Linked DNA regions of Homo sapiens. The protein of the gene in region 2 purifies or fractionates together with the protein of the main gene of each other region. This does not show direct contact. Each region holds a gene or a part of one and is shown on either strand. Other genes may lie near its edges.

Evidence for each region.
Region 1: the proteins of WDHD1 (region 2) and AKAP12 fractionate together in Homo sapiens (co-fractionation; one large-scale study listed by BioGRID). This does not show direct contact.
Region 3: the proteins of WDHD1 (region 2) and EML4 fractionate together in Homo sapiens (co-fractionation; one large-scale study listed by BioGRID). This does not show direct contact.
Region 4: the proteins of WDHD1 (region 2) and LRRFIP1 fractionate together in Homo sapiens (co-fractionation; one large-scale study listed by BioGRID). This does not show direct contact.
Region 5: the proteins of WDHD1 (region 2) and GOLGA3 fractionate together in Homo sapiens (co-fractionation; one large-scale study listed by BioGRID). This does not show direct contact.
Region 6: the proteins of WDHD1 (region 2) and NASP fractionate together in Homo sapiens (co-fractionation; one large-scale study listed by BioGRID). This does not show direct contact.
Region 7: the proteins of WDHD1 (region 2) and FNBP1 fractionate together in Homo sapiens (co-fractionation; one large-scale study listed by BioGRID). This does not show direct contact.

The regions. Positions count from the first base shown.
Region 1 is NC_000006.12:151,347,796-151,351,745, reverse strand, and holds part of AKAP12 (A-kinase anchor protein 12), read right to left. Parts: intron 3,036-3,950; coding exon 1-3,035. UniProt on the Homo sapiens protein: Anchoring protein that mediates the subcellular compartmentation of protein kinase A (PKA) and protein kinase C (PKC).
Region 2 is NC_000014.9:54,961,019-54,964,968, forward strand, and holds part of WDHD1 (WD repeat and HMG-box DNA-binding protein 1), read right to left. Parts: intron 2,155-3,950; coding exon 1,934-2,154; intron 1,836-1,933; coding exon 1,720-1,835; intron 1,534-1,719; coding exon 1,480-1,533; intron 1-1,479. UniProt on the Homo sapiens protein: Core replisome component that acts as a replication initiation factor. Binds directly to the CMG complex and functions as a hub to recruit additional proteins to the replication fork.
Region 3 is NC_000002.12:42,301,704-42,305,653, reverse strand, and holds part of EML4 (echinoderm microtubule-associated protein-like 4), read right to left. Parts: intron 2,551-3,950; coding exon 2,425-2,550; intron 2,340-2,424; coding exon 2,208-2,339; intron 1,171-2,207; coding exon 1,103-1,170; intron 1-1,102. UniProt on the Homo sapiens protein: Essential for the formation and stability of microtubules (MTs). Required for the organization of the mitotic spindle and for the proper attachment of kinetochores to MTs. Promotes the recruitment of NUDC to the mitotic spindle for mitotic progression.
Region 4 is NC_000002.12:237,759,997-237,763,946, forward strand, and holds part of LRRFIP1 (leucine-rich repeat flightless-interacting protein 1), read left to right. Parts: intron 1-67; coding exon 68-209; intron 210-2,606; coding exon of another isoform or gene 2,607-3,950.
Region 5 is NC_000012.12:132,825,721-132,830,421, reverse strand, and holds the start of GOLGA3 (golgin subfamily A member 3), read left to right. Parts: upstream 1-1,552; 5' UTR 1,553-1,619; intron 1,620-2,032; exon of another isoform or gene 2,033-2,406; intron 2,407-2,519; exon of another isoform or gene 2,520-2,614; intron 2,615-2,708; exon of another isoform or gene 2,709-2,815; intron 2,816-4,184; exon of another isoform or gene 4,185-4,701. UniProt on the Homo sapiens protein: Golgi auto-antigen; probably involved in maintaining Golgi structure.
Region 6 is NC_000001.11:45,590,398-45,594,347, reverse strand, and holds part of NASP (nuclear autoantigenic sperm protein), read right to left. Parts: intron 3,126-3,950; coding exon 3,078-3,125; intron 1-3,077. UniProt on the Homo sapiens protein: Component of the histone chaperone network. Binds and stabilizes histone H3-H4 not bound to chromatin to maintain a soluble reservoir and modulate degradation by chaperone-mediated autophagy.
Region 7 is NC_000009.12:130,036,342-130,040,291, reverse strand, and holds part of FNBP1 (formin-binding protein 1), read left to right. Parts: intron 1-3,950. UniProt on the Homo sapiens protein: May act as a link between RND2 signaling and regulation of the actin cytoskeleton. Required to coordinate membrane tubulation with reorganization of the actin cytoskeleton during the late stage of clathrin-mediated endocytosis.

The DNA.
Region 1 (3,950 bases), on a different chromosome or scaffold from region 2:
TTCTGGGGTGGTCTGCCCCACCACCTTCCCTTGTGTAAAAGGCTCAGTTTTTGCCTCCTGAGCATCTACTTTCAACACTACATCCGTCTCTTTCTTCAGACCCGACGCTTCAGCCTGCTCTTCTGGTCTTTCTGCCTCTGCTCTCTGCACAGGCTGAAGCACATCTTCTGGCCCACCGGTGCCAGGCAGCTGGGATTCCTCTTTCACTTTTTCTGCCACTGCCTGGAGGACCTCTTGAGTCCGCCTCTCTTGCTCTTCTATGTCAGGTACGCCACCTTCCACCTCCTGCACCGGAGTGGCCTCCTCTGTGGTGTCTGGGGAGTCGGTTAACTGGGAGACTGCTGACACCATTTCTGTGGTCTCTTCAGCAGCAGATGCTTCGGTTCCTTCTTCGGCACCCAATGGCCCTGCAGTTTCTGCAGCTGTCACAGCTTCGGGGGTCAATTCCGCCTCACTAACGACCGTGTCGCCCCGGGCCTCTCTGTTCTCTGGCAGAGGTTCAGTAACCGTGGGGGGTTCTTCTTCTGCAATTACTTCTCTTTCCAATACCTCCTCAGTTAACAGTGCGGCTTCAGCTTCTACTTGTTCAAGAGGTTCTGTCACTGAAGCAGATATCCAAGAAGGAGACCTTTCTTCAATAATGGTAGCTGCCCTCGTCCCGTCAGCGACAGCTGCTGCCATCATATGAACCTGACTCTCGCTGAGCTCCTTGGACACCTCAGTGGCTGCCTTCTGCTCGGGCTGCTCTGCGCTTTTTTGGGCTTGCTGTGCCTCCATTTTCTCCCTTTCTACAGCATCATACTCAGACAGAGGGACCACGGCCGGGACATCAGAGTCATCTTCGTTGGCCCCTGTTGGCCCTGCGTCTTCAACAGGGGCTTGTTCTTGTTTCCCATCTGGCCTTTTCTTCCTTCGTCCAGGAATAAACTTCTTGATTGAGACCCAGGATTCTTCTTTACCGGGTTCAGTGTCTGGAGTGGAATGTTCTACACCAGACCCAGCTATGGAGTCTTCGCTTTTCTCTTCCAGCTTGGACTTTGATTTTTTTCTTGGCGTGACTAACCTTTTAAATGACTCCCAGGTGGAAACGCCCTCCCCTTCGGTAGGGCTTCCAGCTTGCTCCGGGGAGGAACTTCCCTGCCCTGGATCATGTTCTTGGGAACCAGCAAGGATCCCGTCTGTCCCCGTCTCTTTGTCTTTTCCGGCCTCATCAGCTTTCTGGTGGTCTCCTCCCATTGCTTTTGGTCCCCCTTCCTCATCAGAAGAGGACCCTCTCCTTGCTCTTTTCTTGGATGATCCCACACAAATTAAAGCTTCCCAAGATACTGAGGTATCCACCTTGCGCTTTGGTTCTTCCGGCTTTGGCTCTTCCACGCTCCCTTTCATTTCTTCTTGCATTTCAGAGGCTGTGCTCTCGGTGGAAGACAAGGTAGCGCTCTTGACCTTGTCCAGCTCATCTTCTTTATCACTTTCCGAAGGCCGTCTAACACGCTTCTTGGGCGTCACCATCTTTTTGAATGATGCCCAGGGAGTGACACCTTCTCTTTTTTTCTCTCCATCGGAAGTAGCTCCTTCTTCAGCTTCCCCATCCTGCTGCACCTCGGCTAAGCCCTTTTCCAGACACGTGATCTCCTCGGGCTCCTCAGGGGATGAGGCAGAGCTCTCGCCCTTTTGCTCCTCCTGGCTGTCCGGAGAATCGGCTGGAACCTGAGTGTGCTCCCCTGATTCCTCGTCTCCTCCTCCTCTTTTCCCTTTCTGTTTCTTTCCAGAAAGCTTTTTTAAGCCAGTGCTGGTAAAAAGCTTCTTTAGTGGACTTCCCTGCACCTTCATTCTCTCCTGTGATGACAGCATTTCCACCTCACTCACAACGCCTTCGGGGGGTTTGGACAGCACCTTCTCATCAGGACTGAGGTCAGCTCCCTGTGTAGGGTCCTCTCCGGAAACACACGTTTCTTTGAGCTTCACCAGCTCCTTGGCAGGTTCAGCTTCCTGAGGTTCTGCATCCATTTCAACCAATTCTTCAGCTGGCACAGACCCTGCTGTTTCTTCCACCTCCGTTTTCTGCTCTTCGGTTCTCTCCTCCACGGTGCTGACGTGGACTTCGGCCACAACCTCTTCTTGGTGGACTTCTATTTTCTCATCAAACACTTCTGTCGCCAACGGAGCAGGTTTCTCTTCAGAAGGTCCCTGCGAGCCACTGACTTGCTCCTCTGAGGGCAGCTCAACTTTCTCATATTCAGCTGATAACCGGGGCTCGTGGGCACTTTCTGCCGGCTCCTGTGGGTGGGCTTGCTCGGAGGCGGTCAGTTTCTCGGAGGCAACCTCTGCCTTTCCGTCTTCTTCTGTGTCTACTTTTTCTGGCTCTTGTTCCTTTTTCTTCTCTGAAGCTTCCACTTCATCCTCCTTCGGCTTCCTGAAACTGGTCTTTTTGCGCCAGCCGGCCCAACCTTGAGTGAAGAATTTTTTGAAGGTTGATCCTGTTTCACTGGTCACGGGACTAGTCGGAGATTCTGCAGACTTGCTAGGTTCTTTTTCTTGTTTCTCTTCTCCTTCCTCTTTGCATTCCTCCACTGCTTGGCCAGATTCGGCTGGGGGAGAAATTTCTGCGTGGCTTTGCTCACGCTTCAGGGTCTCTTCGGGTTTCTCTGTAGATTGTTTGGGTTCGCTTTCTTTGGATGCTGCTTCTCCAGCCCCAAGGCTGGGGTCCTTGTGGTCGCCAGCCCCTGCTGCTCCCTCCCCTTCATCTTTCTTCACAGTGAGTAGCTGGACAGTGTCAGGCTTCTCTGTCTTATCCTTTTTCACAGTGAATTTAAAGCCAACAAACTTAAACACCTTCTTAAATCCAATATCATTAGCCTGGGACTCAGTGGGTTGTGTTAGCTCTTCTAAATTGCTTTCTGAAGAAGGAATCTGTTCGATTATTTCGGGTGTCTCCTCCTGCCCATCATCTGTGATGTCGTGAACAACCGCTGACTTAGTAGCCATCTCTTTATCGGAGTCTCTTTTGCTCACATCTTCAGAGTCTCTCTGTCCAACTATTAACAAAAAGGGGCGGGGGGGTGGGGAGAAGAGAAAAGGTGATTACAATACAAGAAAATTGTTTTTCTCCGACAGGGCCTCACTCTCTTGCCCCGGCTGGAGGGCAGTGGTGTGGTCTCGGCTCACTGCAGCCTCAACCTCCCAGGCTCAAGGAATCCTCCCACCTCAGCATCCCGAGTAGCTGGGACTACAGGCACATGCCACCATGTCCAGCTAAGTTTTTTATTTTCTGTAGAGATGAGATCTCACTATGTTGTCCAGGCTGCTCTCCAACTGCTGGGCTCAAGTGACCCTCCTGTCTCAGCTTCTCAAAGCAGTGGGATTACAAGTGTGAGCTATAGTGCCTAGCCCAAGAAAATTAACTTTTTTTTTTTTTTTTTTTGAGACAGAGTCTCACTCTGTCGCCCAGGCTGGAGCACAGTGGCACGATCTCGGTTCACTGCAACCTCTGTCCTAGGTTCAAGTGATTCTCCCACCTCAGCCTCCTGATTAGCTGGGATTACAGGCGTCTGTCACCATGCCCAGCTAATTTGTTTTTTTTGTTTGTTTTTTTTGAGATGGAGTCTCACTCTGTCACCCAGGCTGGAGTGCAGAGGCACGATCGTGGCTCACTGCAAGCTCCGCCTCCTGGGTTCACGCCATTCTCCTGTCTCAGCCTCCCGAGTAGGGAGGCTAATTTTTTTTTTTTTGTATTTTTAGTATAGAGACGGGGTTTCACCGTGTTAGCCAGAATGGTCTCGATCTTCTGACCTCGTGATCCACCCACCTCTGCCTCCCAAAGTGCTGGGATTACAGGCGTGAGCCAACACGCCCAGTCAATTTTTGTATTTTTAGTATGGGAGGGGTTTCACCATGCTGGCCAGGCTGGTCTTGAGCTCCTGACCTCTAGTGATCCACCCACCTCGGCCTCC
Region 2 (3,950 bases):
GGTCTCAAACGTCTGGTCTCAAGTGATCCTTCCACCTTGGCCTCTCAAAATGCTGAGGTTACAGACATGAGCCATCACACCTGGCCAGTAGTCTATTATCTGTTCTTCTTCAGCACAGTGTGCCATGCTATACCTCTGCTTAAAACCTACAACAGTCTCTCAGTGACCTTAGAATAAAGAGCAAAATCCTGACCGGGTGTGGTGGCTCACACCTGCAGGTCCAACAACTTTGGGATGTGGAGGTGAGGAAATTGCTTGAGTTTGAGACCAGCCTGGACAACAGAGTGACACCCCATCTCTATTAAAAAAAATAAAATAAAATAAAAAAAAGACCAAAATCCTTAATATGGCCTACACAGATCTGCATGACTTGGCTCCTGCCCATCACTCCGAAACCCTTCAGCACCACTTTCTCTTTGCTCTCTGAGCTTTTCACACCACCCTTTTGCAGCCTTCAGTTCACACATACTGTTCCTTAAGCCCAAATGCTTCTCTTCTGCTCCTGTTCCCATGCACCTTTGCCTTGCTGACTGTTATTCATCCTTCAGGTCTCTGCTGTAAACACTCCATGAGGCCTGCCTTGAAGTCCCTACCCATCCTCCACCACTGGCTAGATGACAGCTATGTGTCATACGCTCTTTTCATATTCTACATGTTTTTTAAGTTAATTTTTTTAAATCAAAGTAACATATGTCCACAGTTTAAAAAGTCAAATGGTACTATAAGGTTTATGCTCCCCACCAAAAAAGGGCCAGCAGTGCCTTACTTCAACCTTCTCTTATCCCCCAGGCCCACTCCCTGTACGCAACCATTTTCAACTCCTTTTTTTTTTTTTTGAGATGGAGTCTCACTCCATTGCCCAGGCTGGAGTGCAATGGCACGATCTCGGCTCACTGCTACCTCCACCTCCTGAGTTCAAGTGATTCTCCTGCTTCAGCCTCCCGAGTAGCTGGGATTACAGGCACATACCACCACCCTCAGCTAATTTTTGTATTTTTAGTAGAGATGGGGTTTCACCGTGTTGGCCAGGCTAGTCTAGAACTCCTGACCTCGTTATCCGCCCACTCCGGCCTCCCAAAGTGCTGGGATTACAGGCGTGAGCCACTGCGCCCAGCCTTCAATTCCTTTTAACTGTTTCTCCAGTATCCTGCATGCTTCCTCAGTGATACCCAGATCTGTCTTCAACATCTGTCTTCTCAGCTGGGCTAAAATAGCATTAAAACAGAGATCAACCACACATGTCTGTTTGACTTCTGTATCCACCATTAAGTAAAATGCCTGACACTCAATAGGCATTTTATAAACATCTGTTAAATGACCATAGCTTCACAAACAACATCTGAGATTAAAAAAACAAAAACATAAACACACACACACCAAAAGTGGCCTTAAGAGTTAAGGTGTATTTGCGTAGATGTGTCACTTTGCAGATGACTTGCAAAATTTCCTTGATATTACAAATTTATAAATATTTCTCACCTGACTTAGCTGAAACATCAGAGGAATTTGTACTTTTGGAAAACGAGTTCTGTCCTACAGATTAAAATAAAGCAATATAATGTAAATGGGGAAAATATAGTCATCCTCAATATACAACAACCAGATAGCAAAGAGGTCTGAAAAAAAGTATGAGTATTCAATTTCCCTCAGTTAAGCAAAATGGGAAAAGCCACATCCATGATAGTTCTCATGATTTATGGGCTTGAAAATGTATCTCACCAGGCTTATGTATTTCTGGTTTTTCTTCATCATCAGCTTCTCCACTGTCCTCAGCATCTTCTTCAACTTGATTTCTGAACCTTGGTTGGCTCCACTCTGTAGCAGTATTGCTGTAACTAAGAGAAAATAATATTATTCAATAAAGAGCTATGCAAAGACCAACTTAACATTCAAGACAGTAAAGGAAAATTCAAACAACTAAATTATTTCTTACCCAGCATTCAGCTTTTTTCTGAAATCTTCTTCTTCTTCTTCCTCTTCCACCTGGGTTGCTGTCAATTCGGCTGCCTTCTCTACAGCCAGTTCACTTAGTTTTTGAGCCAGTATTAATTTCCGAGAGCGAGAAGCATATTTAATGGCTAAATTCACAGCATTTTGAGTCATTAGATCAGCAAGTTCCACACAACGGAATTCTCGCTCCAGTTTACAAGAAAGCTAATCCAAAAAGGGGGGGGGGGGGGAGATCAAATAACATCAAGTAAAACTTTTTAAAGATACTGACACTACTAGTAAAACTGAGACAATAGTTTTCTAGCTACTCTATCTCCCTAATTCTAAGATGCACATTTTTACAAGTTTTAACATCTCTGAAATTGGAATTACAATTAATTACAATTAATGGTGGGTCAGTTTGGCAGCATTTTTATGTCTCCATGGCTTAAATGAATAAAGTAATGGTGCACTATGCAATAAACAGTGGCTTAGATTTGATGAAATATTACATACCACTTTAATCTACTAATTGCAAGAAAATTAAGAAATTTGTTTAAAAAATTCAAGGGGGAGGCTGGGCACGGTGGCTCACGCCTGTAATACCAGTGCTTTGGGAGGCCCAGATGGGTGGATCATGAGGTGAGGAGTTCGAGATCAGCCTGGCCAATATGGCAAAACCCCGTCTCTACTAAAAACACAATTAGCCAGGCGTGGTGGCGTGCGCCTGTAATCCCAGCTACTCGGGAAGCTGAGGCAGGAGAATCGCTTGAACCCGGGAGGTGGAGGTTGCAGTGAGCCAAGATTGCACCACTGCACTCCAGCCTGGGCGAGAAAGCGAGACTCTGTCTCAAAAAAAAAAAAAAAAAAAAAAATCAAGGGGGCCAGGTGTGCTGGCTCACACCTGTAATCCTAGCACTTTGGAAGGCCAAGGCAGAGGGACTGCTAGAGGCCAGGAGTTTGAGACTAACCTGGGCAACACAGTGAGACCCTATAACTACAAAAAATAAATTAGCTGGGCGTGGTGGCATGCACCTGCAGTCTTATCTACTCAGGAGCCTGAGACAGGAGGTTCACTAGAGCCCAGGAGGTTGAGGCTGCAGTGAGTTACAATCTTGCCACTGTACTCTAGCCTGGGTAACAGAGTGAGACCCTTTCTCTAAAAAATACAAAAAAGAAAAACAACAAACTGAGAAAAGTTGGTATTTTGAAGATTACTAAGGGTCTCCTAATTCATAGTGTATTAGAACTATTTTCTTACTTAGATATTCCATGTCTGATCCATCAGCACAAAAGCTTTAGATATTCACCTGGATGCCCTTTTCAAGATTTTTAGTATCATTTATCTATAATCAGTACTTCTTAATCGGGATGGTACACTGCCTCAGGGGGCATTTAGAAATAAAAAGGAAGCCGGGCGCAGTGGCTCACACCTGTAATCCTAGCACTTTGGGAGACTGAGACAGGTGGATCACAAGGTCAGGAGATCGAGACCATACTGGCTAACACGGTGAAACACAGTCTCTATTAAAAATACAAAAAATTAGCTGGTGTGGTGGCAGACAACTGTAGTCCCAGCTACTCGGGAGGCTGAGGCAGGAGAATGGCGTGAACCTGGGAGGCGGAGCTTGCAGTGAGCAGAGATCGCGCCACTGCACTCCAGCCTGGGCAACAGAGCGAGACTTCGTTTCAAAAAAAAAAAAAGAAATAAAAAGGAATAGTCTGGTTTCCACAGTGACTATTCTGAACTAAAGGCATTTGCCCGGGGGTCAGGAATGCTAAAGAAGAACTCAACAATCCCCTTGAACTCCTGGGCTCAAGATATCCTCCTGCCCTGGCATCTTTGATATGAGTCCCCTGGTATTTTTGATATGAGAAACACTGCCACAGGGAAAAGCTCCTCTAGGCTAAATAGCAAATACATGAAATATGTTTCCTTATATGTGTTGTACAAATAAAAAGGCTACTAGTTCCTGGACCACAAGTAACACTTTATAAAAGGAATAAAACTTTTTCTACAA
Region 3 (3,950 bases), on a different chromosome or scaffold from region 2:
AGTCAATTAAAGATATATAAATCATAAACATGTTAACCTTAGGTACTATACAAGGTCTGCAAGACAGGTCTTAAATTATTTTAGAAAATATATCTTTATTATATATCTGCGTAGCATTTAAAAAAGACAGGATGGCAAAAGGTATAGCACAAACAACTTATAAATGCTCAATGGTGTTACATCAGCTTCAAATCCTTCCCCTGCATAAAAGATGAGGAGAGAAATTTTCTGATTCTTCTCATTTCACAAAGGAAAAGTCAAATCTGCAACTCCTTTTCAATGAAGCCCATAATGACCACTCTATCATTTTGCAACTGCACTCCCTCTTAATCTCCCATCATTTTCCCTATCCTCACATGGTTCTTAACATTTTCTAATATAATTCGTGATAATGTTTATTATTTTTATTTTTTGTAGAGATGGTGTCTCACCCAGGCTGGTCTCAAACTCCTGGCCTCAAGCAATCTTCCTGCCTCAGCCTCCCAAAGCACTGGAATTACTGGCGTGGGCTACTGCAACTCGCCTTATTATTTTTTTTGAGATGGAGTCTTGCTCTGTTGCCCATGCTGGAGCGCAGTGGCACAATCTCGGCTCACTGCAACTGTCTCCCAGGTTCAACTGATTCTCCTGCCTCAGCCTCCAGAATAGCTGGGATTACAGGTGTGTGCCACTGCGCCTGGCTAATTTTTGTATTTTTAGTAGGGACGGGGTTTCGCTACATTGGCCAGGCTGGTTTCGAACTCCTGACCTCAGGTGATCCGCCCACCTTGGCCTCCCAAAGTGCTGGGATTACTGTGCCTGGCTGCGTCAGGGCTTATTTTTTATTCTGTCCCATACACGCTAAAATGTAGGCTTCACAGGACAGGAATTTTTGTTTTGTTTTCTGATGTATTCTGAATACACACAATAGCATGTAGCATGTCGCAAAAGGCAGGTGCTCAATAAATAATTGAATTCTATGAATATACAAAACGGATAAGAACAACAAGCATATTAGTGTGCCACTTAAGAGATTAATTCTCCAGATCAGATTGAGAACATTCCTGAATAGCATTTAAACATCCCACCACTTCAGATTACTCAGTTCACTTAAAGACCCTACCTGCCTGAGTGCGTTCCTATGGCCACCACTGTGCCACTTGGATGAAAATCTGCACAGTGTCCTGGTTCCTAGAAAAGAGACAGACAGCTGTTGGGGAGTACATGAGAAAGTCTCCCTATGGGGACAGTAGCAAAAACTTCTGAAAATAACCTGTTTCATTCAAACATAACATTTCAATCAACTTTGTAGCTAATGAGAAATACCACACAGATATGAGAGGAAAAAGAATTTCAGAGCATGAAGGGGATATGCTGGCAGAGTGGTGAGGGAAAGGGACAACCAGCTTGTGGCTAGGGAGTGGAACAATAATAAGGATAATAACAACAAACACTGGTACAGTTCTTTAGCATCCACAAAGAACTTATATACACCTCTTGGGCTAGAGAAGGTGGATATCTGGGTTGGGTAGAGAGAAAATACAGTAAGAGACCACCCAGAAAGAAGACAGTAGAGCCTGTTAGTGAGCAGCACTTACTGAATCCAACTGCAATGCCACCCGAGGCACAAATGTTTCCATAATAATTAATGCTATGTAGATATTTGAAATCTTTATGATTTTACTACTGAAGCTGATGGACAAATTGAGCTTTTACGCTGCTAACTTACTTCTTCTATTTTTTATTTTTTGAGACGGAGTCTCGCTCTGTTGCCCAGGCTGGAGTGCACTGGCACGATCTCGGCTCACTGCAAGCTCCGCCTCCCGGGTTCATGCCATTCTCCTGCCTCAGCCTCTCGAGTAGCTGGGACTACAGGCGCCCACCACCACGCCTGGCTAATTTTTTGTATTTTTACTAGAGACAGGGCTTCACCGTGTTAGCCAGGATGGTCTCGATCTCCTGACCTCGTGATCCGCCTGCCTGGGCCTCCCAAAGTGCTGGGATTACAGGTGTGAGCCACCTTGCCCGGCCTAACTTACTTCTTTAAAATCGGTTCATGTTCACACTTTAAGACTAAACGCTACCCTCTTATCTCCACCCTCTATTACTAAACCATATGTTTACATTTGGTTTGAATCAACACTTAGTCCTTTTTACTTTGCTGCTCTCAACTGCCAGTGTGAGGAGTTTCTGTGGGGAGGTTAATAATCACATCCTGCTTCACTCACATCTACCAGCCTGGTCCATTCCAGCCTGTGTTCCATTGAGTTCCACAGGCACACCTGCCTGTCCTGAGCACATGTCAAGAGCAAATCTTTGAAGGGATGTGTGGCAAGACCCCAAAGCTCATCTGTATGACCCTGAAAATGAAAGACACTCATTGTTATAAGAACCAAAGAATATCATAAAAAATATTCAGTTAACGGTTAATATCACACAGCTTACCTGTACTTCTATTTGGAAGCCATCATTAAATGTTCCTCGTAAAATAAAGTTTCGTGATGTGCCTACTAAAAATTGATCTGCCTTTCCTTCTGCTACAGCTCTGATTGTGCCATACTGATCAGGAACCTAGAAAAAAAAGTGTAAAGTCACCATATACATACTAATATGCATTAATTACTACTCGAAGCCTGCATTTATAGCTGTAAGCAATTATGAGGTAATTATGACGAAAGCCCAAATTTGGATATGGTAATCTCATACTACTACTAATTTATTTGTCCAATGACATTTTATTATACAGAAGTTATAATAATTATCAACATTCTTTGCTTCAGTTAATTTTAAACGTATATTTTATATGACTTTAGGAGTTAAGGGTTAAGAACAGGGAAAAAAGGCTGGGCATGGTGGCTCACACCTGTAATCCCAGCACATTTGGAGGCCAATGCGGGTGGATCACCTGAGGTCAGGAGTTCGAGACCAGCCTGGCCAACATGGTGAAACCCTGTCTCTACTAAAAATATAAAAATCAGCCAGGTGCGGTGGCGGGCGCCTATAATCCCAGCTACTGAGGAGGCTGAGGCAGGAGAATTGCTTGAATCCGGGAGGCAGAGGTTGCAGTTAGCCAAGACTGGGCCACTGTATTCCAGCCTGGGCGACAGAGCAAGACTCTGTCTCAAAAAAAAAAAAAAAGAAGTAAGTTCTATTAGCTCACATGAAATCACATGAAGAATGTGGTCGGGTTTTGTTACTTATTAGTTATATTAGTTACATTACTTTGGGTAAGTTACTTAGCCTAAGAAACATTTTCTGTAATATAAGGATAATAATACATGCCCTACCCACTCTTGATTGTTGTAAGGATCAAAATATAAAAATATTCTCACCACAAAAAAATGATAAATGCATGAGGCAACAGACATACTAACTACCCTGACTGGATTACTATACAGCATATCTGCATCAAAACATCAGATTGTATCCCATAAATATGTTCAATTACAATGTGTCAATTAAAAAAATGTAATGTGGAAGTTCTCTGTAAATTAAAAAACAATATATTATAAAGTATTATAATAATAGGATTCCTTGGGAGAGCAATTTCATTTAATGCAATACATGGAACAATCTCAGTGAATGCTGTGTTAATACATTTAATAATAATCTCAAAGAATGATTCTGAAATAATGGAATTATAAATCCCACTTTATCAAGTGGGATCTAAAATTACTCCTAAAAATACAAATAACTGAACTCTAAGAGGAATCCAAATTTACATTAGAAATGGGAAAGGAAGGAGTGAACTAGATTGTATAGCTTTTATTAACAAAGGATATGAGTTATCTGTGAAGAAAACAGTGATGGAAGTTGCATTTTCAGTATGAACTGAAGGTTGTGATTAAGCAACTCTTTATTATCTATCTTCCTGGAAATAAAATCCAAGAGCAGTACTATCAGGATCCTCTTTTTAAGAGGATTTTCCAGAAGATTTTCTCTGGAAAGAATGCTACACGTAGAAAAAAAAA
Region 4 (3,950 bases), on a different chromosome or scaffold from region 2:
GTATTAAAACAGAGTTTAACCTAATATCACTGAGTAAATATTACGATGAGCCTATTTTTGTTCCCAGAAACATGGAATAATCCTAAATTCAGAAATAGCTACCAATGGAGAGACTTCCGACACCCTCAATAATGTTGGATACCAAGGTCCTACCAAGATGACAAAAGAAGAGTTAAATGCCCTCAAGTCGACAGGGGATGGGACCCTAGGTAAGTATTTGCTTTCCTTCGGCTCCTCACACCTTTCCACTCAGCATTGGTTCACCCTCCATGCACTGCTGGGGTTGGAGCCACCGTCGCTGATGGGTTAACAGTCACCAGCATGCCATTTGTTTCATCACTTCATGGTAATTTCCTTGCCCACCCGGTGTGGTCACCCACGTGTTGTCTGGCATGCATCTCTGTGTAGTGCACCATCAATGGCTCAAGTGAACCTTTTCTTTTGCTGCTCAAAGCTACCAAGCAAGACTGTGAAGGCAAAAGGAAAACAGTCTCAAAATTAAGTAACAATGTGGAGAGTACTATTTGGTTTTCCTCAGACACATATATATCTGTACCTATAAAGTGTGGCTTTTTAAACCGATTCTATGACAGAATTATCAAAAGATCAGAATGGTTGAGGCCGTCAAGTCAGTTGGCCATATTTGCAAGCCAACATCGACATCCTGGGCAGCATTCAGCGCTTTGAGGGTACGGGGTGCCTGTGGACAGCAGGTCCGTCTGTGTTGCCTTTTTCAAGCCACCGCTCGAGGTGGGCAGGCGGCCGTGGTAGTGGGTGTGGCGGTGCTGAGAGTCTGAGTATGCCCACCTTTGTCAGAGGGGATCCTCCTTTGTATGCCACGTGTTTGCTTCTGAAAGAATATAAAACTGGGGAATCCAGTAGATCAGAGGAATATTTTATACCATTTTCAATGATCTGATTTGTCATAATTTGTCATAAGAGTTGGCTTTGGGAGAAACCTTCAGATTCTGGCGTGCAGCCTGAAGTTGCAGCGTGCAAGTGAGGCCTCATCTGTCACTGGTCACCCTCTGCGTTCCAGTGTTTTACAAAGAGGCTGGAATAAGGTCAGGGTCCGTGACTTTTCATTTTAATGTAGAAGCTTTCATCTTATTTCTTTTTATTTATGGAAATGTAGACACCTCCAGGCCCCATCTTCTCAGGCCTCGCATTCCAGGGAGGTACCTCATTCATTATCTTTATGACTATTAAAGAAACACAGCTCTTTTCAATTGTGTAAAAAAAGTTGTGGCCTAGTGCAGTGGCTCACACTTCTAATCCCAGCGCTGCGGGTGGCCAAGGCTGGAGGATCACTTAAGACCAGGAATTCCAGGCCAGCCTGGCAACCTAGCAAGATTCCGTCTCTAGATAGGTATGTAGTATCTATATACCGTTGTTGAGAAAAGATAAATTAATCAATTTCCATCATACCTTTATATGAGCTACCCGAACAGCTAGGAATCTGATTACGCTGCTCTTACTCAAATACACATTTTATAAATCTTTGATAACCATTGTGAAATGTTGTAAGAACCAGAAATGTCAGTTTTGAAAGTGGCCTTCAAATGACTTTTGATCACATATTCCTTCAGCAAAGAATTGTAGGATCCAATATGTATGTTTATTTTAAATCTACATATGTATACTATTTCATTAATATAAAATGTACGTTATAAAATATATGCAAAGATATGCAAAGAAGTTTTAGAGTAAAACTCTAAATAGAATTCCTAATATTTCCCCCATTTTCCCTGGGATATGGGCACCCCACCATGGAGATCACTGGGCTATAAAATTATCTAGCTTTGACTTTCAGTAACATAGTACCATATCTAATCTGCTGGGGTTTTGTTTGGAGAGTCCAAAAATTCCAAAACAGTTTGATGTTCTTTAGACGATGAATAATTTATCATTTAATTTAGTGGTCATCTTGATCTTGAACATTTGCCTCCTGCTGGTCCTCTCTCCCTAGTCCCTTAGGGAATGGAGCAGAGGTATCAGGGCATGGACACAGGGTGTTTTCTCAGGAAAACAATAGTTGAGTGGCAGAAGATAGATTTCCTTTCATATGAGCTATTTCAAAAGCATCTTCCTTGAGACTGACCTTGAGGCTGCATTTCTAAAAGTGCACTGAATATTCTTTTTAAAAATTACTTGAAAGCTGCTTTTAGGGCTGTGTGACATGGAGTGCAGTTTGACAGCTGCAAAAGTACAAGTTGTCAAGTTGTTCATTGAGAAGTGAGAGTGGGGAATTGAACCTTCAGTCTGTTCCTAAACCCATCATTGTGGATTGTTTGGCTGCCTGATCCAGAGTTCTTTCTATTTGTTGAAACTTAACGTCACCTTTAAAAATCTGTCCACACAAGATGGCACCAGCAGCCACTCTGGCCTTTGATGTGGTGGCAGTGGCCCTCACTGACCCAAAATTTACTAATGCAACTGCTGCTTTGCCGCACAGAACTGGCAAAGGCTTGTTTCTCATGACTCTTTGATGACTCTGTCTTTAGGAATAGGGGTGGGTGGGATTTGGAACGTGTGTTTACATTCTAATGTAGATTATGTGGCCGCCACATCATGGGGTCCCTTCAATTTTCTCAATGGTCTTTTAGGAAGAGCCAGTGAAGTGGAGGTGAAAAATGAAATCGTGGCGAATGTGGGGAAAAGAGAAATCTTGCACAATACTGAGAAAGAACAACACACAGAGGACACAGTGAAGGACTGTGTGGACATAGAGGTATTCCCTGCTGGTGAGAATACCGAGGACCAGAAATCCTCTGAAGACACTGCCCCATTCCTAGGAACCTTAGCAGGTGCTACCTATGAGGAACAGGTTCAAAGCCAAATTCTTGAGAGCAGTTCTCTCCCTGAAAACACAGTACAGGTTGAGTCAAATGAGGTCATGGGTGCACCAGATGACAGGACCAGAACTCCCCTTGAGCCATCCAACTGTTGGAGTGACTTAGATGGTGGGAACCACACAGAGAATGTGGGAGAGGCAGCAGTGACTCAGGTTGAAGAGCAGGCAGGCACAGTGGCCTCGTGTCCTTTAGGGCATAGTGATGACACAGTTTATCATGATGACAAATGTATGGTAGAGGTCCCCCAAGAGTTAGAGACAAGCACAGGGCATAGTTTAGAGAAAGAATTCACCAACCAGGAAGCAGCTGAGCCCAAGGAGGTTCCAGCGCACAGTACAGAAGTAGGTAGGGATCACAACGAAGAAGAGGGTGAAGAAACAGGATTAAGGGACGAGAAACCAATCAAGACAGAAGTTCCTGGTTCTCCAGCAGGAACTGAGGGCAACTGTCAGGAAGCGACAGGTCCAAGTACAGTAGACACTCAAAATGAACCCTTAGATATGAAAGAGCCCGATGAAGAAAAGAGTGACCAACAGGGAGAGGCATTGGACTCATCGCAGAAGAAGACAAAGAACAAGAAAAAGAAAAACAAGAAGAAAAAATCCCCAGTACCCGTAGAAACCCTTAAAGATGTTAAAAAAGAGTTAACGTATCAGAACACAGATTTAAGTGAAATTAAGGAAGAAGAGCAGGTAAAGTCTACTGACAGAAAGTCAGCAGTGGAAGCCCAAAACGAGGTGACTGAAAATCCAAAACAGAAAATTGCAGCAGAAAGCAGTGAAAATGTTGATTGTCCGGAGAATCCTAAAATTAAGTTGGATGGAAAACTTGACCAAGAAGGTGATGATGTACAAACAGCAGCTGAGGAGGTACTAGCTGATGGAGACACATTAGATTTTGAGGATGACACCGTTCAATCATCAGGCCCGAGGGCTGGTGGTGAAGAATTAGATGAAGGTGTTGCAAAAGATAATGCTAAAATAGATGGTGCCACTCAAAGCAGTCCTGCAGAACCAAAGAGCGAAGACGCAGATCGCTGCACCCTGCCCGAACATGAAAGTCCCTCACAGGACATTAGTGATGCCTGTGAAGCAG
Region 5 (4,701 bases), on a different chromosome or scaffold from region 2:
TTGATCTCTTGACCTTGTGATCCACCTGCCTCGGCCTCTCAAGGTGCTGGAATTACAGGCGTGAGACACTGTGCCCGGCTTTTTTTTTTTTTTTTGAGACGGAGTCTTGCTCTGTTGCCCAGGCTGGTGGCACGATCTCCGCTCACTGCAACCTCTCCGCCTCCTGGATTCAAGCGATTCTCCTCCAGCCTCCTGAGTAGCTGGGATTACAGGCACATGCCACCATGCCCGGCTAATTATTATATTTTTAGTAGAGATGGGTTTCACCATTTGGCCTGGCTGGTCTCAAACTCCTGACCTCAGGTAATCCGCCCACCTTGGCCTCCCAAAGTGTTGGGATTACAGGCGTGAGCCACCGCATCCGGTGAAAAGTTTCTAATTTTTTCATGAAGTTTACTCTATCAACTTCTTTTGTGAATTGTGTTTTTTTGGTCAGATCTAAGAACTCTTCCCCAAGCTCTAGATGTGAGAAATTCTGTTTTCTTCTAAAAGTTGTATATTTTACGCCTCAGTCTGATCATTTTGTGTTAGAATTTGCATTTGCAGATAACATGATGGCCCATGTAAAAAATACAAGGATTTTACAACAACAACCGCAAAACACCAAATGAACCCTCAAACTAATGAGTTCAGCGAGGTCTCAGGATAAGAAAATCAACATAGAATTCATCACATTTGTGTAGACCAACAGTGAACACGTGGAAAACGTCAAAAACGCAGTGTTACAGTTGTTTGATGTGAAATACTATAAACTTAAAAGGTGCAGAATCTGTATGCTGAAATTACAAAATGCTGGTGGAAGAAATCAAAAGACCGAAATAAATGGAGGGGCCACCAGGGACGCAGATGAAGGACCGAGTCAGCGATGCCCGTGCTCCCCAAACGATCTGCAGCAGTTCCCATCAAAATCCCAGAAAACTTCGTAGACTGAAGCGTATTCCAAAATCCGCAGAGATGAGCGCAACATCACAGAGGACCCCGAGGCGCCCTCCAGGCCATTTCCTTCCTGACAGCTGGAAGAGCGGCCTGGCGGATGAGGGAAGGTGGAAAGCCGTTCCCCAGCGGCCAGCGGCCCGCGCCGTCCAGCTTTGCCCTTTTTAAAGGGGAAGCAAATAGGGTCCAAAGCAGCGTCGCCTTTGATCTGGCACCTGAAGCGCGAAGGGCGCCGGCCGGGTGGAGGTGCGGGGTTGGGGCGGGGACCCGACTAGGGCGGGCGGGGAAGTCACGCCCACACCGAGCTCGGCCGCGCCCATGCCGAGCCCCGGCCACGCCACTTCCGCCGGAAGCTCGGTTCAGCTTCCTGAAAGAGTTGGTCCTGCAGTTCCGGAAGTTGCGTTTCTACTAGGGAAAGGTCCGCAAACTCTTAAGGTCACTTTCTGAAGGCGGCCTCATCACAGTCGGAGGTGAGCTCGATCCGGACCCTGTGGGCAGAGGGTCCCCGGCCCTAGGGTGGCCACTTGAAGAAGAGGAGGACGTTCTCTGTTCCGGAACGAAAGTAGCGCGTGCAGGCTGTTTCCGGGGACCCGAGGCCGATGCACCGCTCGCCCCGCCCCTCTCACGGCCACGTCTCCGCCGGAGCATCCGGGCCGGGCGGCCTCCGGGGCTGCCAGAGCAGCAGGGTGAGGGGCTCGGAGGCCGCGGCGCCTCGGGGCTCGGGCTCCCGCTCCCGCTCCCGCTCCCGCAGTGCATGGGCGGGGGAGGCTCGAGGGGCGGCGGCGGGGCCTGGGCGCGTCCCTGCAGCGTGGCGGGACGGCCCCGTTCCAGTCACCCCCGCCTCGCTGCGGTGGCCTCGGGCCTGGGCGCCCGCCTTCAGCTGCGGCGGAGCTGGCTCTGTAAATGCCGGTGCCCGCGAGCCCTCCTGAATGCTTGTCTGCGCCCGACGAGCGCGGCCTGTCCCGAAGCTGTCCACTGCCACCACTCGGGCAGTGCTTGCTTTAGCCTGGCCCTTTGCAGCTGAAAGGCGTGACATGGTGTCGGGTGGTTCGTGGGAAGTCGGGGTTTCAGGAGTCCGTGTACTTCCTTGTTTGTCTTTGTCGCTGGCCGACTTGTCTTCATTCCAGGTGGCCAGAGCGAGTGGGGCCGGGCGTTGTCACGGGTATGAACCCGACGAATGTCAGTCGTGTGGCGGGTCCTGGGTATTGTGGGTCTGGGTCACTGCCCCCGCGGAGCCCACCTAGGACAGGGACACCCAGGGTCGCCAGCGAGAGGGTACCGGGCGGTGGTTGGGTGGGGTCCGCTACTCTAAGTGGGAGCCTGGGGGGCGGGCGACTTCCGTGCTAAGGCCTCTATGACGAGAAGCAAGCCAGGCAAAATTGTGAGAAAAGCGCGCCTCAGGCAGAAAGTTTGAAGACCCTGAGGGCGGAGGATGTGGCCACAGTGTAATGGCAAAGGGGGAAAGCGATGGCGGTAAGGATGTTGGTGTAGGCAGGTGCTGGATTCTTAAGAGGTTGGAGTTTATTGTCACTGGGCCAGTGTAAGCCATTTACAGATGACTCATGGATTTTTTTTTTTTTTTTAAGAGACTGGGTGTGTTGCTGTATTGCCCAGGCTGGTGTGGAACTCCTGGCCTCAAGCGATCCTCCCACCCCAGCCTCCCAAAGTGCTGGTGTTACAGGTGTGAGCAGCCACACCCGTCGTCGTGGATTATTTTGAACTGTCTTTTAAACGACATCAACATAGCGCTTTATAACCCTTTAATATCTTTTCAGGCAGTATACCTTAAATGGCAAGAAGGAAATAAATCATCTGACATCACTCAGATTGAAGAGGAGCTTTTTTTCCCCCGATTGCCTTAAGAAGTAGCATACTTTCCCAAGTGAGAATGCCTTCAGTTGGCTTTTAGCGATTTTGACAAGCAACAACTAAAGGGAAAATCGTGATAATTACTGTCATTTTATTGAGGACACGGGACAGACTCTGTGCCTTGTTATATTTAATCCTGGCAAAATTTTGCGTTCATTTTCTCATTGTTTTACTGGTGAGGAAACAGGCTAAATGTGATTAAGAAATCTTTAGCCCAGGCTCTCACAGGTAAGTGGTGGAGGGTCGGGAGCTGAGGCCGGAGTCCTGACTTCCAAGCCTGCCCTTCACGTCTCTGCAGTGACATGAGGCTTGCTTGCTTTTGGTTTTCACTTTGTGTATAGATCTGTGTTTACTTTTGGATACTAGTGTGGCCTCCACCAGGTACTCTTTTCCTGAGGAAATCGTGTTTGGTTTTTGGCTGTGCTCTGTTGTTTCTAATACCCGATAGGAACAGGTGAAACGAGGTGGTGTAGATGGAGCCGTGAATGTTTGTATACAGAATTCAGGTGTGGGGGAAGCAGAAAGTCCTGTAGGTGCCTGAGGTGGTGGTTTCTCAGTATGAAGTCCCTTGATGTTACCCAGCTGTGAACCTAGGGTTGTGTGTACCTTTCGCAGTTCTAAGTGACAGCTTTGTCCTGTCTCTTCTCTCTAGAGACGCAGGAGTGCGAGTGATCATAAGTGAGACTGATTAGACTGGCCTCTTTATTTAAAATAGAGCCATGTTTGTAGTACCAGCTTTCTGTGATGCACTGGCAGTTGCTCCTCCTCCTCGCTGCCCGGAGATCGCTTTTTGTCAGTAGTCTGAGGTAATGAGGCCCTGACGACTGAGTCATTCCAAATTTTAACTAAAAATCAAGCAAGACTGGGAATCGACCGAGACTGCCAGCTTATTGCCCTACAGGGAGAAGTATCACTGTCACCAAACTCCAGGCAGTTAGTGAATTCTCTCTCTGGTCCGGCTTCAGGAGGAGCTGCCTGTAAAGAGGGGCCGTCTTTGTGACTTACAGTCACCGTCATGGGGTCTCTGTTCTGGAGAGGTGGGCTGCTTGGACACCAGCAGGGGAATTAAGTGAGCAGAATCTGTGATTGCACTGGACTCAGCTCGGTGCGGTTGGCTGTCACCATGTTGGCGTGCCCTCTCGGTGGAACCTGAGCGTCTTTGGCTGTGTTCCTTCTTGGTCAGTGTAAGGCCCAGGCGTCGTCACTGTGGGCCTCTGCAGCAGTTCTCCTCTGCAGCAGTTCTCCTCTGCATGTTCCACCTGTAATGGCTGAGTCCAGTCCTGCTGGTCATCCCATCCTTCCTTCTGTTCAGGTGGTGGTGCCTGTCTGGGCCGTGGCCGTGATGCTGCTCTTCCAGTTTCTTTTTTTTTTTTTTTTTTGGAGAATGAGAAAATAACTTTATTTCATTGTGGGGAGCGGGCTGATGTCCAGCCTCAGAACTTCTGGAACTGCTTCTTGGTGCTGGCAGCCTTGGTGACCTGGAGCACGTTGAGGTGCACTGTCTTGCTCAGAGGCCGGCAAGGCCGGCACTCGCCCACTGTGACGATGTCACCGATCTGGACGTCCCTGAAGCAGGGGAACAGGTGTACAGACATGTTCTTGTGGTGCTTCTCGAAGTGGTTGTACTTGCGGATGTAGTGCAGGTAGTCTCGGCGGATGACAGTGGTCCTCTGCGTCTTCATCTTGGTCACCACGCCAGAGAGGATCCGCCCTCGAATGGAGACATCACCAGTGAAGGGGCATTTCTTGTCAATGTAGGTGCCCTCAGTAGCCTCTTTGGGTGTCTTGAAGCCCAGACCAATGTTCTTGTAGTACCGCAGGAGCTTCTCCTTGCCAGTTTCTCCCAGCAGGACCCTCTTCTTGTTTTGAAAGATGGTCGGCTGCTTTTGGTAGGCACGC
Region 6 (3,950 bases), on a different chromosome or scaffold from region 2:
TGTTGTTGTTTGTTTTTTTTTTTTGAGAGTTTCGCTCGTCACCCAGGATGGAGTGCAGTAGCGTGATCTTGGCTGACTGCAACTTCCACCTCCCGGGTTCAAGTGATTCTTCTGCCTCAGCCTCCCAAGTAGCTGGAATTACAGGCGCTAGCCACCACGACCGGCTAATTTTTGTATCTTTTTTAGTAGAGACGGGGTTTCACCATGTTGGCCAGGCTGATCTTGAACTCCTGACCTCAGGTGATTCACCCACCTCAGCCTCCCAAAGTGCGTGAGCCACCGCGCCTAGCCCTATTTTGTTTCTTTCCTTTTTTTTTTGGAGACAGGGTCTCACTCTGTCACCCAGACTAGAGTGCAGTGGCAGGATCATAGCTCACCACCACCTCGACTTCCTGGGCTTCCGCAATCCTCCTACCTCAGCCTCCCCAGTATCTGGGACCACACGCAAGTGCCACAACGAACAGTTAATTAAAAAAAAAATTTTTTTTTTTTGTACAGATGGCGTCTTGCTATGTTGCCCAGGCTGGTCTCGAACTCCTGGGGTCATGTGATCCTCTCAGAGATGGAGGTCTTGCTTGGCCTCCCAAAGTGTTGGGATTACTGGTGTAAGCTACCACACCCAGCCAAGCAGTATTTCATAAGACTTATTTTAACCCTTTTCCCGTTTAAGAGAAAAAAAAAAAAGTACAGCTCATTGCCAGCACTCATTTAATTTTACATAAACATGTTCTTTGAAGCTGAAGCAAATCTGACTTTCAGCATGAAAATAAAAATATAAAACTGTTCTCGGAGTTTTTTTTTTTTTTTTTTTTGGGGGGGGACAGTCTCACTCTGTCACCCAGGCTGGAGTGCAGTGGCACAATCTTGGCTCAATGCAACCTCCACCTCCCAGGTTCAAGTGATTCTCTTGCCTCAGCCTCCCGAGTAGCTGGGATTATAGGCGCCCGCCACCACGCTCAACTAATTTTTGTATTTTTAGTAGAGAGAGGGTTTCACCATGTTGGCCAGGCTGGTCTTGAACTCCTGACCTCAAGTGATCAGCCCACTTCAGTCTCCCAAAGTGCTGGGATTACAGACATGAGCCACCTGCCTGGCCGGAGTTATTTCTAAACACAACTAATATCAGAATCGCCTATTTCATAAAAATTGGATTCATCAAATGAATCTTTGGCCAACAACCATTTGAGAATGATGTTAACATCATACATAGGAATGCTACGTTTTCTAGGATTTGACATTTACAGCAATCGAGAATTACCCTATTTTGTAAATGGAAATAACCATTACTAAAAACAGAGTGCTATAAACAGAATGATGTCTTTTTATCCAAAATCTATATATTAGAGTGATGTGAAAATAATAATAAAGGAGAGCTATTTCATGGCAGTTTTCACTGGGTAAATGCAGCAGCCCCAAGCACCACCAGCAAGTATTCTCAGGGCAAATGGGAAAAGGGTTAAATAACCAAGATGACAACAGGATTTCAAACATGAAAAACATAAAACCCTATGGACGCTTAAAAAATGTATTTGTGGCCGGGTGTGGTGGCTCACGCCTGTAATCCCAGCACTCTGGGAGGCCAAGACGGGCAGATCGCCCGAGGTCAGGAGTTCGAGACCAGCCTGACCAACATGGCGAAACCCTGTCTCTACTAAAAATACAAAAATTAGCCGGGCATGGTGGTGGGTGCCTGTAATCCCAACTACTTGGGAGGCTGAGGCAGGAGAATCGCTTGAACCCGGGAGGCAGAGGTTGCAGTGAGCCAAGATCATGCCATTGCACTCCAGCCTGGGTGACAGAGTGAGACTCCATCTCAAAAAACAAACAAACAAAATATTTGTAAGATATTCTAACAGTAATAATTCTCAATCTTATCAGAAAGCTTTTCCATAACACATGAACCCAAATTTTATCTCAAGCTCAACAAATAAAATCAGCTGGGCATGGTAGATCAGGCTGGTAATCCCAACACTTAGGGAAGCCAAGGCAGGGGGATTGCTTGAGCCCAGGTTGGAGACCACCCTGGCCAACAAAGCAAGACTCCGCTTCGAAAAATATAATTCGGGTGGGCACAGTGGCTCACGCCTGTAATCCCAACACTTTGGGAGGCCAAGGCGGGCAGATCACCTGAGGTCGGGAGTTCAAGACCAACCTGGCCAACATGGTGAAACCCCATCTCTACTAAAAATAGAAAAATTAGCTGGGTGTAGTGGCACCCGCCTGTAATCCCAGCTACTTGTGAGACTGAGGCAGAATTGCTTGAACCCAGGAGGCAGATGTTGCAGTGAGCCAAGATTGCGCCACTGCACTCCAGCCTGGGCGACAAGAGTGAAACTCAGTCTAAAAAATAAATAAAATAATTAGCCAGATGTGGTGGTGCATGCCTACAGTCCCAGCTACTCAGGAGGCTGAGGCAGAAGAATCCCTTTAGCCCGGGAGTTCGAGGTGGTGGTGAGCTATGATAACATCACTGAACTCCAGCTTGGGCAACAGAGCAAGACCCTGTCTCTAAAAAATGAAACAAGAAATCTCTAGGGATGTAACCTACCATCTACCTTTTGGGTAAGCTTTTTAGTTAATTATTATGCCCACCTCTGATTAAGAAACATAGTCACTACGGGTGTAGATCTGAGATAAAGAAAAACAAAAAACCATAGCCATATCAAGATGGAAACGTTACAGGGGGAGGAGGTGAGACGGGCCTGGTAGTTCACACCTATAATCCTACACTTTGAAAGGCTTAGGCAGGGAGGAATGCTTGAGGCTAGGAGTTTGAGACCAGCCTTGGCAACATAGCAAGACCCCATCTCTCCAAAAAATTTAAAAATGAGCGAAGTGTAGTGGCATGTGCCTATAGTCCTAGCTACTCAGGAGGTTGAAGTGGGAAGATTGCTTGAGCCCAGGAGTTCAAGGTTGTAGTGAGCCCTGATTGCACACTGCACTTCGGCCTGAGCAACAAAGCGACACCTTGCCTCTATCAAAAATAAATTAATTAAAAAATAAAAATAACTTTAAAGTTATATTGCTCTTAGTTTATGTTTCTGATACGAATCTAACTACCATGTAAATAATCTTACCTCTCCACTTTATCTGCAGATGTAGAAGGAGCAGGAACATCTTCAATTCTGTAATAAAAAATTAAAGGGGAAAAAATGTAAAACTGGAGGCAATTATTAAGCCTGAAAATAAAATAAATTCAGAAAAATATAAAGGAATAAAAGAGCTGTCATTTATTAAATACTCAAGTATTATTTACTTACTTACATTATCAAATTTAATTCATTTAATTCTTACTCACTCAAATATCCAGGGCTGAAAATAAGTGGCAACTTCACAGCTATAACCACAGGGATGAGGAACAACTTAAAGGGCAGTGCTTTCAGCTACAGGTTGTAAGCTATCTGGGCCATTTGCCTAGAATCTTGAAATGGTCTTGGATCCTTATCTACAAACTCCGTCACAGCCAGTCATGTATATCGAATAGTTTTATTAAGAGGTCATTCTGACCAAATGGTCTAGCACAGAGCCTCTCAAACTACCTGTGGTTAAGGGACTAGGTCTTTTATTTCCCTATATAACCTTCTATAACACACAGGTTTTTTTAAATACAATGTCAGGGAGATATCACAGCGAGACTCCGTCTCAAAAAAAAAAAAAAAAAAAAAGTTACACTATGACTGCAATATAAGACTCTGAATTGAATACCATTAAAAGCAAGGAACCAGTAAAAACACTATTAAGTATCATTGTAAAGCATTTATCAGTGATAAATTTCTTTTCTTTTTTTTTTTTTTTTTTGAGACAGAGTCTTGCTCTGTCGCCCAGGCTGGAGTGCCCTGGCACGATCTCCGGCTCACTGCAAGCTCCGCCTCCCGGGTTCACGCCATTCTCCTGCCTCAGCCTGGGCCTGGTGCCAGGCCGGTGCCTGTGCACCGGCCACCATGCCCGGC
Region 7 (3,950 bases), on a different chromosome or scaffold from region 2:
CTTACAGTTTAATATAGGAAAAGGAATGAACACATGATTGTGCTACTAAGAGAAATGCAAAATCTAAGTTTTCAGGTGAAATGCAAAGATGTATAAGGCTTAGTAGCTTTTGAGATTTAAAAAAACTAGAATAATGAAGGATTATGAAAAGTAAACCCCAGTTTCTCCGGTGGTCAGAGACTTGGTGATGTGCGGTACATTGGGTAGCCCAGCGGAGGGCAGTGATTAAGGGTTTTCCTTGAATGGTGGCTTTGGAATCATGCACATGTATAATGAGATAATGATGGGGCGCTCAAGCCAAACTTGGCAGAATTATTCTTCTAGATGGAGAAAGAGCTATGGTTTGGGTGGCCATGAATTATTTGTAACAGGTGGTTGCAGCTTTCAGGGACCTTCACAAATACTATCAGATTTTACATACATTTTAGGACTTCAGGTTAAAATCAATATAGGCTTTTAGAAACTACAGGTTTCTAATGTGCATTTTACACTGAAGACCTGCTCCTAAGCCACATCCTGCTTTGTAGAGGGAGTAAAACCTTTCTCTTCCTCTTTCTTTTTTACTTTTTCTTTAACCCCTCCATAGAAATAAACTTTCTTTTTTTTTTTTTTTTTGAGACAAAGCTTCGCTCTTGTTGCCCAGGCTGGAGTGCACTGTCACGATCTTGGCTCACTGCAACTTTCACTTCCCAGGTTCTAGTGATTCTCTTGCCTTAGCCTCCTGAGTAGCTGGGACTACAGGTGTGCATTATCACACCTGGCTAATTTTTTCTATTTTTAGTAGAGATGGGGTTTCACCATGTTGGCCAGGCTGGTCTCGAACTCCTGACCTCAAGTGATCTGCCCGCCTCGGCCTCCCAAAGTGCTGGGATTACAGGCGCGAGCTACCTCGCCCAGGCTTACATGGCCATTTTGAAGTGATTGGGTTCTAATAAAATAGTTTACAACTCTTCATAACATAGCTCTTCATAACATTGCCTTTTAATCAATTTTCAAAATTTTTATTGAACAACTATGGTGTGCACAAGACACCAGTCTGAATCTGTTGTAAGTTACATTATATACATTGAAAGATATCTACGTGGAAGCATAGAAAGTAGGTTTTACCTCTAGCTTGTAACATCAGAGTCAAAAGAAAAATGTTTGTATGTAAAATTAACCAAAATACATTTACTCAAGACTTGTTAAAAAGGCAGTGTTAGTAAGGTAAATATGTTCACTGACTTGTTGAAGTTGTGGCTGGTTGTTGGAGAAATGGCAAAGCAAGAGTTGCTTACATTTGAATGTTTTTTTTTTCTTGCCTACTTACTGAGGGAAGTGACAGGTTACTGAAGTGTTAGTTCAGCTTTTTATTAGCTTGCTTATTAGTGTGAAGTATGAATAAATCCATTGGAAAATTAAGCCTTCCTCGTAATTATTCTCTTTGCAGCTAACAAATTATTCAGTGACAGAACCTGGTTTTGCTGCCTCCTAGTATCCTCTCTGTCTTTATTTATTTGCTCTGGTGCTAATGAGAAATGAAGTATGTACAAGAAAGAGAACAGAGAAACCTGAATAATGCATATTGGTTAGCATAGTAAGAAGCCACATGTGGGCTGGGCGCGGTGGGTGGCTGACGCCTGTAATCCCAGAACTTTGGGAGGCCAAGGCGGGCAGATCACGACATCAGGAGTTTGAGACCAGCCGGACCAAGATGGTGAAACCCCATCTCTACTAAAAATACAAAAATTAGCCGGGCGTGGTGGTCCACGCAGGTAATCCCAGCTACTCGGGAGGCTGAGGCGGAGAATCGCTTGAACCCGGGAGGCGGAGGTTGCAGTGAGCCGAGATGGCGCCATTGCACTCCGCCCTGGGCGACAGAGCGACTCTGTCTCAAAAAAAAAAAAAAAAAAGAGCCACCTGTGTTGATTGTATGTCTTTTTTTTTTTTTTTTGAGACGGAGTCTCACTCTGTCGCCCAGGCTGGAGTGCAGTGGGTCGCACGATCTCTGCTCACTGCAAGCTCCGCCTCCCGGGTTGACGCCATTCTCCAGCCTCAGCCTCCGGAGTAGCTGGGACTACAGGCGCCCGCCACCACGCCCGGCTAATTTTTTTGTATTTTTAGTAGAGACAGGGTTTCACTGTGTTAGCCAGGATGGTCTCGATTTCCTGACCTCGTGATCTGCCCACGTCGGCCTCCCAAAGTGCTGGGATTACAGGCGTGAGCCACCGCGCCCGGCCGACTGTATGTAATTTTTTTTACCTGTGATTTTTAGAACCATGCCAGGCATATAATATACATTCATCTGTTGAATATGTTGACCCTGATCGTGGTGTGCACTTTCAAGAGGCAGCCGTTTGAGGATTGTCTACCAACTGTACTGGGAACAATGCCTGACTCTGTGTAGGAGTTCAATAAATATTTATTGGATAAATGAATAAATCCCTTTTTTTCCTTTTGTTTTAACATTTGCTTTTTAAAAATAATGGGAAGATAATTATAACACCTTTCTGCACTTCGGCAGTTGTAAAATATATATATAATTTTAGGTATCTTTTTGGAAAATAGACTATTTTTTAGAGCAGTTTCGGTTCATAGCAAAATTGAGAAGGTACAGAGATTTTCCATATCCTTTCTGCCCCCAAATACACACAGTCTAAGTACCTTTTTTGCCTTTAAAGTAGGGTTTGAAAAATTATCCCTTCTCTGTTGTTCATTCTACTTAGGCATGATATGTGTACATATCTTTATATAAGAACACTTTATAGTGTGTTGAATTTTTTTCCCTAGTGTGTCGAAATTTTAAACTAGTTTTTTAATCTTAAAGTAACAAATTATTAACAGTTCCAGGTATTGGATAATTATTACCTCTTCTTACTGCCCTTGAATGCTAAATTGGAGAACCCTATTAACAATCGTCCCTAGCTCTTCTACTGCTCTTTTTTCTTTTTTCTTTTTCGAGATGGAGTTTTGCTCAGTCACCCAGGCTGGCGTGCAGTGGCGCGATCTCAGCTCACTGCAACTTCTGCCTCCCAGGTTCAAGTGATTCTCATGCCTCAGCCTCCTGAGTAGCTGCAGGCCCCCACCACCATGCCCTGCCAATTTTTGTATTTTTCATACTAGAGATGGGGTTTCACCACGTTGACCAGGCTGGTCTCAAACTCCTGACCTCAAGTGATCTGCCTGCCTCTGCCTTCCAAAGTGCTGGGATTACAGGTGTGAGCCACCATGCCTGGCCTCTACTGCTCCTTTTTCTTTTTTTTTTTTTGAGATGGAGTCTCGCTGGGTTGCCCAGGCTGGAGTGCAGTGGCGTGATTTCGGCTCACTGCAAGCTCGGCCTCCCAGGTTCACACCATTCTCCCGCCTCAGCCTCCCGAGTAGCTGGGACTACAGGCGCCTGCCACCGCGCCCGGCTAATTTTTTGTATTTTTAGTAGAGATGGGGTTTCACCTTGTTAGCCAGGATGGTCTCGATCTCCTGACCTTGTGATCCGCCTGCCTCGGCCTCCCAAAGTGTTGGGATTACAGGCGTGAGCCACTGCGCCCGGCCTACTGCTCCTTTTTCTTAACCCTTCAGAGATTTCTGTTTGGGATGAACATGGCAAGACCAACAGGGGAGATAATACTCCCTGAACCATGGTGGGTAGGGCAGAACTGCTTCAGAAGAGAAACAAAATCAACTTAGTTTTGCCATCCTTACTTCTCCATGAGAACAAATTTTGCACATGTCTTTTCTGTTTAGTGGATATTAAAAGAAAACAAACCGTGGGAGGCCTGGAGATTTTGCAGTTGATATTTAGATATCAGTTTTGTTGCCCTCACTTTGTACATTAGACAGAATCCTGAAAATTTGTGTAAATTGCCATTTTGGTAGGCAAAACTGTACTTTAAGCACATAAAAGAGTTTTATAAGTGTCTATACTTACTATGTGAACACATTACAACTCATGCTTTACATTGGTGAGACATGGA